2 separate regions of the Homo sapiens genome follow, and region 1 is linked to region 2. Evidence: fine-mapped expression QTL. A gene starts in region 2. The other region holds a variant in brackets. All regions are shown on one strand. Distances are between the middles of the regions. Region 1 overlaps COX15 (cytochrome c oxidase assembly factor COX15). Region 2 holds the start of ERLIN1 (ER lipid raft associated 1).

What was found. PIP is the estimated chance that this variant, and not a neighbour inherited with it, causes the effect.
Region 1: its variant is the best candidate, but not a certain one, in a credible set for the expression of ERLIN1 in whole blood (TOPMed, PIP 0.50).

The regions. Positions count from the first base shown.
Region 1 is chr10:99,713,528-99,718,909 of GRCh38, forward strand. It overlaps COX15 (cytochrome c oxidase assembly factor COX15), which reads right to left. Exons shown (of 9, transcript NM_078470.6): 7 at 4,819-4,973; 8 at 2,821-2,934; 9 at 1-1,191. The coding sequence ends at 1,060. Among named protein-coding and RNA genes, the nearest start is that of COX15, 16 kb to the right of the region's middle. The variant CTTTT/C (reference allele first, on the strand shown) is at 2,233.
Region 2 is chr10:100,183,656-100,189,037 of GRCh38, forward strand. ERLIN1 (ER lipid raft associated 1) reads right to left here and starts at 2,374. Exons shown (of 11, transcript NM_006459.4): 1 at 1,859-2,374; 2 at 101-182. The coding sequence starts at 1,971. It overlaps CHUK (component of inhibitor of nuclear factor kappa B kinase complex), which reads right to left. Exons shown (of 21, transcript NM_001278.5): 21 at 4,645-5,382. RefSeq lists a silencer at 2,272-2,421 and an enhancer at 2,592-2,741.

The sequences.
Region 1 (5,382 bases), 470 kb before region 2:
AATTTGTTTATCTGGGTAGATGTCCATGCACTACACCATCAAGGCCATATTTTTCTTATTACAAAGCTGTTAGGAAACCCTCTCAGGAACCAATTTATACTGTCGATTCCATTCCTCTCTCTGACCTTGTAATGTTAACAGCCTTATCAAAAGAGGAACTAGCTGGGCGTGGTGGCCCATGCCTGTAATCTCAGCACTTTGGGAAGCCGAGATGGGCGGATTACCTGAGGTCAGGAGTTCAAGACCAGCCCGGCCAATGTGGTGAAACCCCTTCTCTACTAAAAATACAAAATTAGCCAGGCATGGTGACTTGTGCCTGTAGTCCCAGCTACTCGGGAGGCTGAGGCATGAGAATCGCTTGAACCTGGGAAGTGGAGGTTGCAGAGTGAGCTGAGATCACGCCATTGTACTCCAGCCTGGGCAACAAGAGTGAAACTCTGTCTCAAAAAAAAAAAAAAAAATGGAACTATTTGGCGATTACCTCCTTTTCCAAGTACTTAAAAACCATTTTGCTACATATACACATTAAGCTTGTCAAAATCTGCAATTTCCCCATTTCTGAAAATCAGGATATTAGAAGACATTAGCTTTTTTTTTTTTGCTGAAGACCAGCTGGCTACTTTGGGTATGTCAATCCTATCCTTTCAATCTTCACCTAATGGAAGTGAAGTTAAGATCATAAAGAAATTCTATTTAGGCAGAATTAAGGACTCAGGAGAACATCCACGTAGAAATCATCCACGTAGAACCAAGAGCTTGCCAACACTGAAAAACCTGACACAAAGCCTGTTAAGCAGCAAATGGCAGACATTTCTTTCTCTACATTAAAACTGATTTTCAACATGAAAAGCAGATTTAAAAGGGAACATTTAGGGTAACCACACTTAATGCATTCTTGATCCAGTGACTATCTCAAAACAGGAAAAGATTTTTAAGTAAGTTGACCATTTGGAAACCACTTGGTATGTCAAGGTCATCTCGTAGAAAAGCCCAAGTTCTTATGATCTCTGAAGAGCTCTCAAAAGCAGTCACAGTCCCAGGAGGCTGGTCCTCTAAGAATCATTTTGGGACTCTTCGGAGTTCATTCATCAGCCAAAGAGCACCAGTGAGCAAAGCCAAGGAGCCTGACTGGTGAGTGGCGGCCAGAGGAGTTGGGACATACATCAGCAGCGTGCTGATGCCCAAGCCCACCTGTCACAAAGGAAAGAAGGCAATAGGAAAGGCAGTAACCCAAAGTTCACATTGAAAATGGCCAGGCGTGGATAACCACACACAAACCTCCACATCCTCCTATCAGAGCACTTAAAATACACACATTTTTAATTTCACAAGCAAATATGCTTACAATGAAAGAAATTCGAACAAAATTGATAAACCTAAAATTCCCCTTATTCTTCAATCCATCCCAGTTCCCCAGAGTAGTCACTGTTACCAGTTTCTGCATACTTGTACTTTAGTATGTTTATAGAGAAATAAATATATAGTTTTGTGCTTTTAAAAAACATATTGTTCTGTCACTTGCTTTTTTTCACTTAGCAATATACACTATGTATTGAGATCTTATTAAACTGCTGTGCAGTATCGCACAGTATGGATATACCATAGTTTTTTTTGTTTTGTTTTGTTTTGAGACAGAGTTTCACTCTGTCTGCCAGGCTGGAGTGCAATGGCATGATCTTGGCTCACTGCAACCTCCACTTCCAGGGCTCAAGCAATTCTCCTGCCTCAGCCTCCCAAGTAGCTGGGATTACAGGCGTGTGCCACCCCGCCTGGCTAATTTTTGTATTTTTTAGTAGAGACAGAGTTTCATCATGTTGGCCAGGCTGGTCTTGAACTCCTGACCTCAGGTAATCCGCCCACCTCGGCCTCCCAAAGTGCTGGGATTACAGGCGTGAGCCACTGTGCCCGGCCCATAGTTTTTTAACTATTTAGGTTGTTTCCAATTTTTCACTATCACAATTCTATGATGAATTTTCTCATACAAAAGGTCTTTGTTGCATTGGACTGTTTCTAGGACTGACACTAATAAGTTCATTTGCTGGGCCAAAGAATTACCCATTTAACTTTTAAAAGATATTGCCAGCCTGGGTGACAGAGTGAGACTCCATCTCTAAAAAAAAAAAAAAAAGATATTGCCAAATTGCCTTCTGGAAAAAACTGTACTGACTCATGCTCTCACCAGGAATATTTGAAAGTATCCATTTTCCTATGCCCATGGCAATACCTGATTAT[CTTTT/C]TTTTCACTTTTTTCCAATTTGATAGGCACAAAATGGTACTTATTTTTTAAATTTGCTCCTCTCTGATTATAAGTGAAGCTGAACAGCTTTTCATGTTTACTGGCCATTAATCATTGTTTTTGTGGTAATTGTGTATTGATGTCCTTTACTTATTTTCCGGTTATTAATCTTTTAATTTATTATAAATATGGAAAATATTTTCTCCTAGTCTGTCACCTTTCCTTTTTTTTTTTTTTTTTTTTAAACAGACAGGGTCTCACTCTGTTGTCTAGGCTGGGGTGCAGCGGTGCGATCTTGACTCACTGCAGCCTCAACCTCCCTGGCTCAGGTGATCCTCCCATCTCAGCCTCCCAAGTAGTTTGGACTACAGGCACACACCAACATGCCCATCTAATTTTTGTATTTTTTTTGTAGAGATGGGGTTTTGCCATGTTGCCCAGGCTAGTCTTGAATTCCTGGCTCAAGTGATCTGCCCACCTAGGCCTCCCAAAGTGCTGGGATTACAGCCATGAGCCACTGTGCCCGGCCCCTTTTTTAACTTTGTATTGGGGATACTGTCAGAACAAAAAGAAGTGGTTTATACCTGTGTATACGCCAAAGCCAGCAGAGTCACTGCTGCCATCTTGGTCCTTCTAGGAAGGGGAATTCTCCGAGAGAGGAAGTAGAGCACTGTAATGGCAGTGACTGAAGTGATTCCCTGCAGGGAAGAAAGAGTCTATCACATTAGATAGAAGTGCCAGGTTTCTAACTCACCTTACATGTATCTCCTCTAGAACCACTCAGCAACCATGAAGTACTTTCCTGTACCAGTCACAGAGAACCTCCCTGCAGTCCCAGCCTGATCACTCCTCCACAGGCTGTCTCTTCCACCATCCTCTTCTGCTTGCCACTTAAACGTCGGTATCACCCAGGCTCCACCTAAGATTCTGTATGTACTTTATACACCCTCACTCCCAGTGATCTCATCCACCTTCCAATGTGGGTGTCCCCCTCATTTTTAATTCTTTGCATCCTTATCCCTAACCATATCTCTAATCCTATATTCTTAAAGCAGGGCTGACCCCAGCACATGAGGGTTATTATTTTCCTGGGCTGTGAGTGGAGAAAGTGCTGGTGCTGCCAGCTGGTGCTAAAAAAGACCTAAAGTCTCATTTTCATTCCTATCTCTTCAGAACAAGGGTCCAGGACTGGCAATAATGGTCTCCTTCCTCTTCCACGGTATCAGGGAGAATGTTTTCTATCATATTTCTACATTTATTTCACTTCATTTCCTTTTCAGTGCTGTCCACAATGACAATTTCAACCAGGCTTTACTTATGCTAAAATACTGTGCGCAGGTGGGGACTCAGCCCACACCAGGTAACATGCCTCAGCCCAGCCCCCGTTGGACAGCTGAGCCCTCTGGCCCCCTCTCTCTGGACGTGCTGCTCTCATCTCACACTCAACATACCTCCATCTGATGACATCCTCCCACCTCTAGCTCCACACTCATTCTGAGGGTCCCATCCCTGTAGGTCATGTTTCAAGCATGCTGTAGAAGAAACTTTGGGATTTCACTTGATCTTTCTTCACCTTTATTCCTGACAGCCAATCTTATTAACTCTTTTCCTTTATTTATTTATTTATCGTAGAGATGAGGTCTCCCTGTGTTGCCCAGGCTGGTCTTGAACTCTTGGGCTCAAGCGATCCTCTTGCCTTAGCCTCCCAAAGTGCTGGGATTACAGGCATGAGCCATTGCGCCCAGTGCTCTTATTTTTAAATTAAATTTAATTTTTTAAGAGACAGGCTCTCACTCTGTCTCCCAGGCTAGAATGCAGTAACGTGATCACAGCTTACTGCAGCCTCAAACTCCTGCTCAAACAATCCTCTCGCCTCAGCCTCCCAAAGTGCTAGGATTATAGGTGTGAGCCACCATGCCCAGCCTCTCTATTCCTTTAAATTCTCTCTCAAATGCATCATTCTTCTCAAGTCCCACTCCCACCATGTAGGCCCCATCTCCATCACTCTCCCTGGCATTACGCAGCAGCACTATGCTTCTCACAGTCTCCTTACTGCTCATCTTTCCCCGCTCCAATTCATCACACACAGGCCTCCAAGCCAATCTTTGAATGGCCCATAGCAGACCCTCAAAACATATTCGCTTAAATAGAATGAAAAGTACTGGTGAAGCTCCTGGCTCCTTGAGCTTCTGGTTTAGCTCCGAGAGCTACGTGCTTAGCAGCTATGGTCTCCGCATTCGCTTCTCTACTCAACCACATTTCTGCTGAAATGACTTTCTAGGTACGTGCAGAATTGAGGGAGGTTATCACTTGCCAAGTGGTAAAAGGCACATTTGAACTTTTAAGAAGCTGGCAACGTCCTGAAAGCTAGAATTTGGCTGGGGTTGGGGTAGGGGGACAGGGGTGAATAATGAGGACAAAGACATTAGATTAGAGAAATGGTCCTAAAATTTCTTCCAAAGAGAGCAGGAAATATAGTTCCTGCTCTACCCTCTCAGTGTTGCCATCAGTGCTTCACTGACACCCCAAAGCCTATGATAGGCTCCTGTGCTCTCTGGCAGGTAACCACCAACTACACTTACCAGAATCCGGTGATCAAACTGCACCATGGTGGGATTCTCAAAAACATTCCTCAGGATGGGGGAGAAGGTAAAGAGGTCCTCCGGGATCCAGGATTCTCCCATTTTGGGAAAGGAGTTATAAACAAGCCCAGCATCTAGCCCTGCCACAAAAGCCCCTGTATTCCAAGGTAAATGGTATTTATTAAAATGAGAGGAAGAAGAGACCAAATACTAGTTCTGATATAGAAAAAGTCTGTTATCCCAGAGTTAAACTAAGGGAACAGTCAGAGAATAATAGACATATCTGCAACAGGAGTTCTCCAACAGAGAAGATACATCACAATCACCAAGGAAACTTCAAATCTCTGCATCCTTACCTGCTCCCACCCCAAGATTCTGCTTCCTCTAGAGAAGTGGAGTAGAGGCTGTGGTGTGGGGGGAGGGGGAGAGGCTTATTAGCTTAGAAAAATTCCCTTAGTGATTTTGATGCCCTCCTCACCCCGCCACTGAGTGCTACTGATTTATTTTAGAAATGCTCTCCCACAGATGTCTGCATGACTGACTCCCTTATTTCCTCAGCTTCCA
Region 2 (5,382 bases):
TCTGCTTAAGCAATAAGGAAATCTATCTCCACCCACAAGTGTGGTAACTCCTGTCATGCCTGTCTATCTGGTATGGAGGCTTCCCCTAGGAATCACTCACCTGCACAGATCTGAACGTAGTAATGAAAGGCAACATGATATGATAGCCTGGTCCACTGGGGCTAGTTAGTAAAGCTCCTCCCCTGCAAAAAGATGTTTCAATTTGACAAAATTATAAAAAGAAAAATTATCTTTCCAAATCTAAAATGCTATAATAAATACTCACTCTTGCTCATGCTGCTGACCTACTAAAGCCTCACTAATATGAATTGCTCATAATGAACAACTGCTTAAAATACCTCCACACCTAAAAAGGGAAAAAGATCAAATTAAACTGCCAATGTTACACCTTGTTTCATAAGCTCAACCAACCGTACCTCTGGGTCTCCAGCACTGCTCTAAGGTTCAAAGGATTCTCCTCGGTCTTTAACCTTCTGAGAAATATTTGTTTAAAAAATTCTAATGGCTTTCAGTAGAGGTACATTAATAGTACATAACAAGAGCCAAATCAAAATATATAATACATTTAATCACCAGGTTGAAAAAAAGACAATGCAAACTTTGAAGTAAAGAGAAAATTTCTGAGGCTTATAATTCTTTCGATCTATCTACAAGGTAATTAAAATACTGGGAACATAAAATTTCTATATAAAAACAAAAAATTAGCATGAAAAGATGAAGGGTGACAAGACTATACAAATAAATAGCATAAGGGCTTGTTAACCAAATCCTGGAATGTGAAAACTATGAAAGCAAGCCCTGGAAATTATAAAAAGGAGGCATTTGGGGAGCAAAGAAAACAAAGTCCTATTTTGCACCTTGTAAATTCATAGAACTTAGCTACCGGTCTTGAAAATATAAACACATTTGCAAGGTCATAATAACAAGGAAAGATGAACTGTTTGAGGTTCATTACTAATTCTTTGAGTCATTCCTTGAAATGTCCTTTCTCTGGTTTTACTGTCAGAAAGACAATGCTTTTAAACTGGAAGGAAATCTGGACTAATCTGTAATTTCTTATGTAGAGCTCCATCTGCTAAGATATACCATTAAAATTGCTCTTTTTCTAGGATTCAGGATGGATTTGAAAGTAGAAATATCAGTTTTGAGGGATAGTGGAAACAAGCAAAAAGTTGACGCTCTTTTTGAATACACCATTATCCCAATTTCTCCACAAACTGGCCTCTCTTACTAGTCTGTATCAAAAGGAACTTGTGGTAATTAGGCTGAAGGAAAAGCTAAGCGAGCTCAACAAGAGAGCAACAGCTCCCACACCACTCCTGTCCCCAACTTGAACAGCAACAGTAAGGAGGGAGGAGCATGGCCCATCAGTGTTGTGCTTATGTCCCTGGAGGTCCAGGGACATAAGCACCATCACAGTCATCATGGTGTTACAAGACGTAACCAGACACTGGAAGCTTTTAAATGAAAAAGTCTAAGAAACAACCATAAACATACAGCATCTACAGCGGCAAACTAAAGCCTGTACAGTTGAACGAACTATAATTTATCCATCTCTTCAGTTAGAGGTAGAGTGACTACTTCCTTTCTTCCTTCTTCATTTTTCTACAAATAATTGAGTTTGCTGTGTATAGGAATAACCGTAGGGAGACTTAATCTCTGCAACAAAACGAACATAGCACTAAAACTGTCCAACATCTGGAGGGTGCTCCGCAAAAGCCCGCTTCGACCCCCGTGCTCTCCCTAGAGATGGGACATGCGCCCCCGAACGTTGCAGAGGGAACAACTTCCCAGACTCCACTCTGGAGTACCCTTTTAATCTGCTCTAGAGCCCTAACTGACTGCACATGCCGCTCACCTGTAGTACACAGCCAGATGGCCCTCCTCAATCTTGTGGATGGAGGCGTAGAGCAGGACAGCCACCAACCCCACCACTGCAGCCACCAGAACCCGGGCTTGAGTCATATTCATTCTCGTTCCTCCTGGGAGCGGGAGAAAAGGACCCTCAGTCCCGTGAGTGACAGGTCCACCCCCTCCAGTTTCTACCCTCTCCCTCCGGAAACTTGGCGCTCTCTCGCAGGCTGAGCCGGGGAGTCCAGTACCCCTGTCCCCTCATTCTTCCCTTCTGGCTGAGCCCGCTGACCCCTTGCCAACTCCTCCGCCCCCGGAGGCCAGTGGGCCGCCCCTGCTCGGTGAGCTTCCTGAAACTCCCTCTCCCAAGGGTCGCTCCCGGGTGGAAGGCACTAACTGAGAAGAAGCCCAGCCGCAGGCTCGCGAGGAAAGCCGACCCCTCGGCCGCGCCTCACCGATCAGTGACGCATCGCCCCCGCCCGCACGTGCAGCCGACTCCCGCGCCGAGCCAACCGCCGCCAACAGCCGGCCCCGCCCACTCGCCCAGCACTGCGGCTGCGCGGGGACGCACACGGCGTAGCCCCGGCCCGCGGCTAGTGAGACGGGGAGCGCATGGGACAAAATTCTCCTAGCCGCGGGCCGCGCAGGCTCCTTTGGAGGCAAGTCGCTTTCTGTACACTGCTGGTTAACTGCTTCGGAAGAGGACAGCCCGCAGTCTGGAGTGAGCAGCGAAGCAGAGAAAAGGAGACGCCCTTTCGGACAAGGGACTGGTTGGTTTGTTCTTGTGCAGAGAACCCACTCGCTCACTCTCAAACGGTAGCTGTTCGGTTTATTTGTCCTTTTGCAGTGTATGCGGAGCCCCACTGTGTGGCACGCACTTGCTTCCGGCAGAGATCCTGCCCTTCAGGAGCAACTAAACTTGTTGCAAATAAAGTGCTGTGAAAGTTCAGAAGAGGAAGATATTAGATATAACGGCATCATTCTCTCGTTTTTTAAGTGTTCCTATTATGTGCCAGAATGCTGGTCCAGTGAGGGCTTTATGAAGGCCATCCAGACTACAGGAACAGAATTGCTAAGCACATGGGGCGGGAGGCGGAGGGAATCCTCCAGGGAGACCAAAGTAAGTACTTCAGTTTCCTTGAAGGCTTGTGTGATGGGAAGGAGTGCTATGGTAGGCGTCACTACATATTCTGTTCGTTTTAAATTAAAAAACCATGGGCACATATTGCCAAAAATAAAAAAGGGAAGGAAAAAGGTATAGTTGGGAGATAGATGAATACAAGAGAAATTAAGGACATTAATGGTTTAAGCCTTGAAAGGCTAGAGGTGGAACTATAACTGGACAAGGTGGACTAGGGTTGTAAAGTCCTCTAACCCAGCGGACGGGGTGGGGGTGTGTGTGGGTTGGGGATGAAACTGTTCCACTTCAGATCATCAGGCATTAGATTCTCACAGGGAGCCGGCAAACCTCACATGTGCAGTTCACAATAGGGTTCGCGTGCCTATGAGAATCTGATGCCACTCGCTAATCTGACAGCAGGCAGAGCTCAAGGCGATAATGCTCACTCGCCCGCCGCTCACCTCCTGCTATCCGGCTTGGTTCCTAACAGGCCACTGTCTGGTTCCGGTCCGCGGCCCAGGGCTTGGGGACCCCTGCCCTCTTGGGTAGGGAAGTATGGGAAAGCAGTGCTTTAGGGCCAATGAATCTATAAAACGGCTGAAAGTGGAGACAGACTGTTGGCAAGGAAGTCAAGTGGTTAGGAAACTGCAGGCCCAGGGTTACTTAGTAGTGGAAGTAAGAAGAGGTAAATAGAATCAATCCGTCTTCATTAAAGCAAGACTTCCCAGACCACTCTACCCACACCCTTCAATAAATACACTTACCTGTATCATTCATTTGATTTTTATTATCTAGGAATGTCTGGGACCTTATCTGTTCCAAATAAATGATATTTGCAGAGCTTAGCTATTTTAACTTCCAAAAAGCAAAAAGAATGGAAAATAACTTGCTCCATACCCTGTTTTCTGTAGACATTCTCTGAAGTTTTTCATAATATTGCTTAAAGAATGAAATGTATACAATTCACAACTGCCATTCCCCTCTGAAAAGTTGTTACCCACCAAAAAATAGTGGTCCAACTCATGCATCAAAAGCAAGTTTGGGGATCCCACTATAATAGTCTGTTCTGACTCACACCATCTGCCCAAATTATATAGATCAGGCTGCCCTGACATAACCCCAGCCACACACCAGCAGCGGCCCCCACGCTATAACAAATCTTTAACCAATTATTAAAATATTAGAAAATGCATGACCATTGAAAATAATCCTTAACAATAATTGCAATGCTTGGATGGCTTGTAATGTTCAGACTCCCAGATAAGCACTTTTACTATACTGCCTATGTTGTTTCAGATCTTGCCATCTAGCTTAATACCCTCCAAGTAACAGGTACCCAATAAATGTTTATTACTAAAATCTTCTAAAACCAGGGAAACAAGAGAGAGACTGCCTATTATAATAGATGACGAACAGTGATATGTGATGACTAAAAAATTTGGTTGACTAGGAAAATGATACCACTAGCAAAAATGGGGATGGTGGGGCTGTGACATCAGTTTATAGGGCAAGAATCGAGCATGTTTTTTAGATGTAGATAGTGGTGATAGGACATCTCAGAGGAAAACACTCTTAAAGAAGTTGCCCAATACTACCTTTACCATAAGTCCTATTATTCCTAAGGAAAGTACAGTTATTCTATGCTCTTAATTCCACTTCATGGAACCTTCATATTTTCCTAAGCCATATTCAACTGTTTTATTATAATCTGATTTTTATAATGAATAGAGATCAAGAAAGTAATTTAAAAACCATTTAATACACAAAGTGAAAAACTATTAGAATATAAAAGCATTTCACATTTTTTAAGACAAATAATATCTTCTAAATTACTTAGCAGATGATAGAGGTCCACAGTCCTTTCTCTGAAACCCTTGGGGCAAGTTGTTTCAGAATTATGAAATTTTAGATTTTAGAAAAGTAGTTTTGTGCATATACCATACTACATTAACCAGCCCTCACCACAGTCTGTGGCAGCAGCCCTCCCTCTCATCATCAAGCAGCAAAATAAAGGAATATTCACACTAAATGGGATAAAAAGATTCAAGGTCAGTTCAGATTAGATTGCAAGCAAATGAATTTTGTCACCAAGCTTATGGAAACCTTGTTTTCAGAGCTTTTTGGATTTTGGAATTACAATTACAGATAAAGGAGTGCAGACCTTTATAAATTTGTATGACAAGACATGAAAGATTGTTTAAACAAATGACTCATTTTTACAAATGAAAAAACATGTAATTTTCAAATACATTATAAATTAACAGGCATCTTCTCTTTGATATTATTAAATGTACATCTTAAATACATATACACACAACAACATGATTTATGAAAGCCAACTAATATTAGAAGCACAGATACACAATCCCTTCGATGAGAAGGGGATACTGTTAAATTTTCAGTGGAATTTA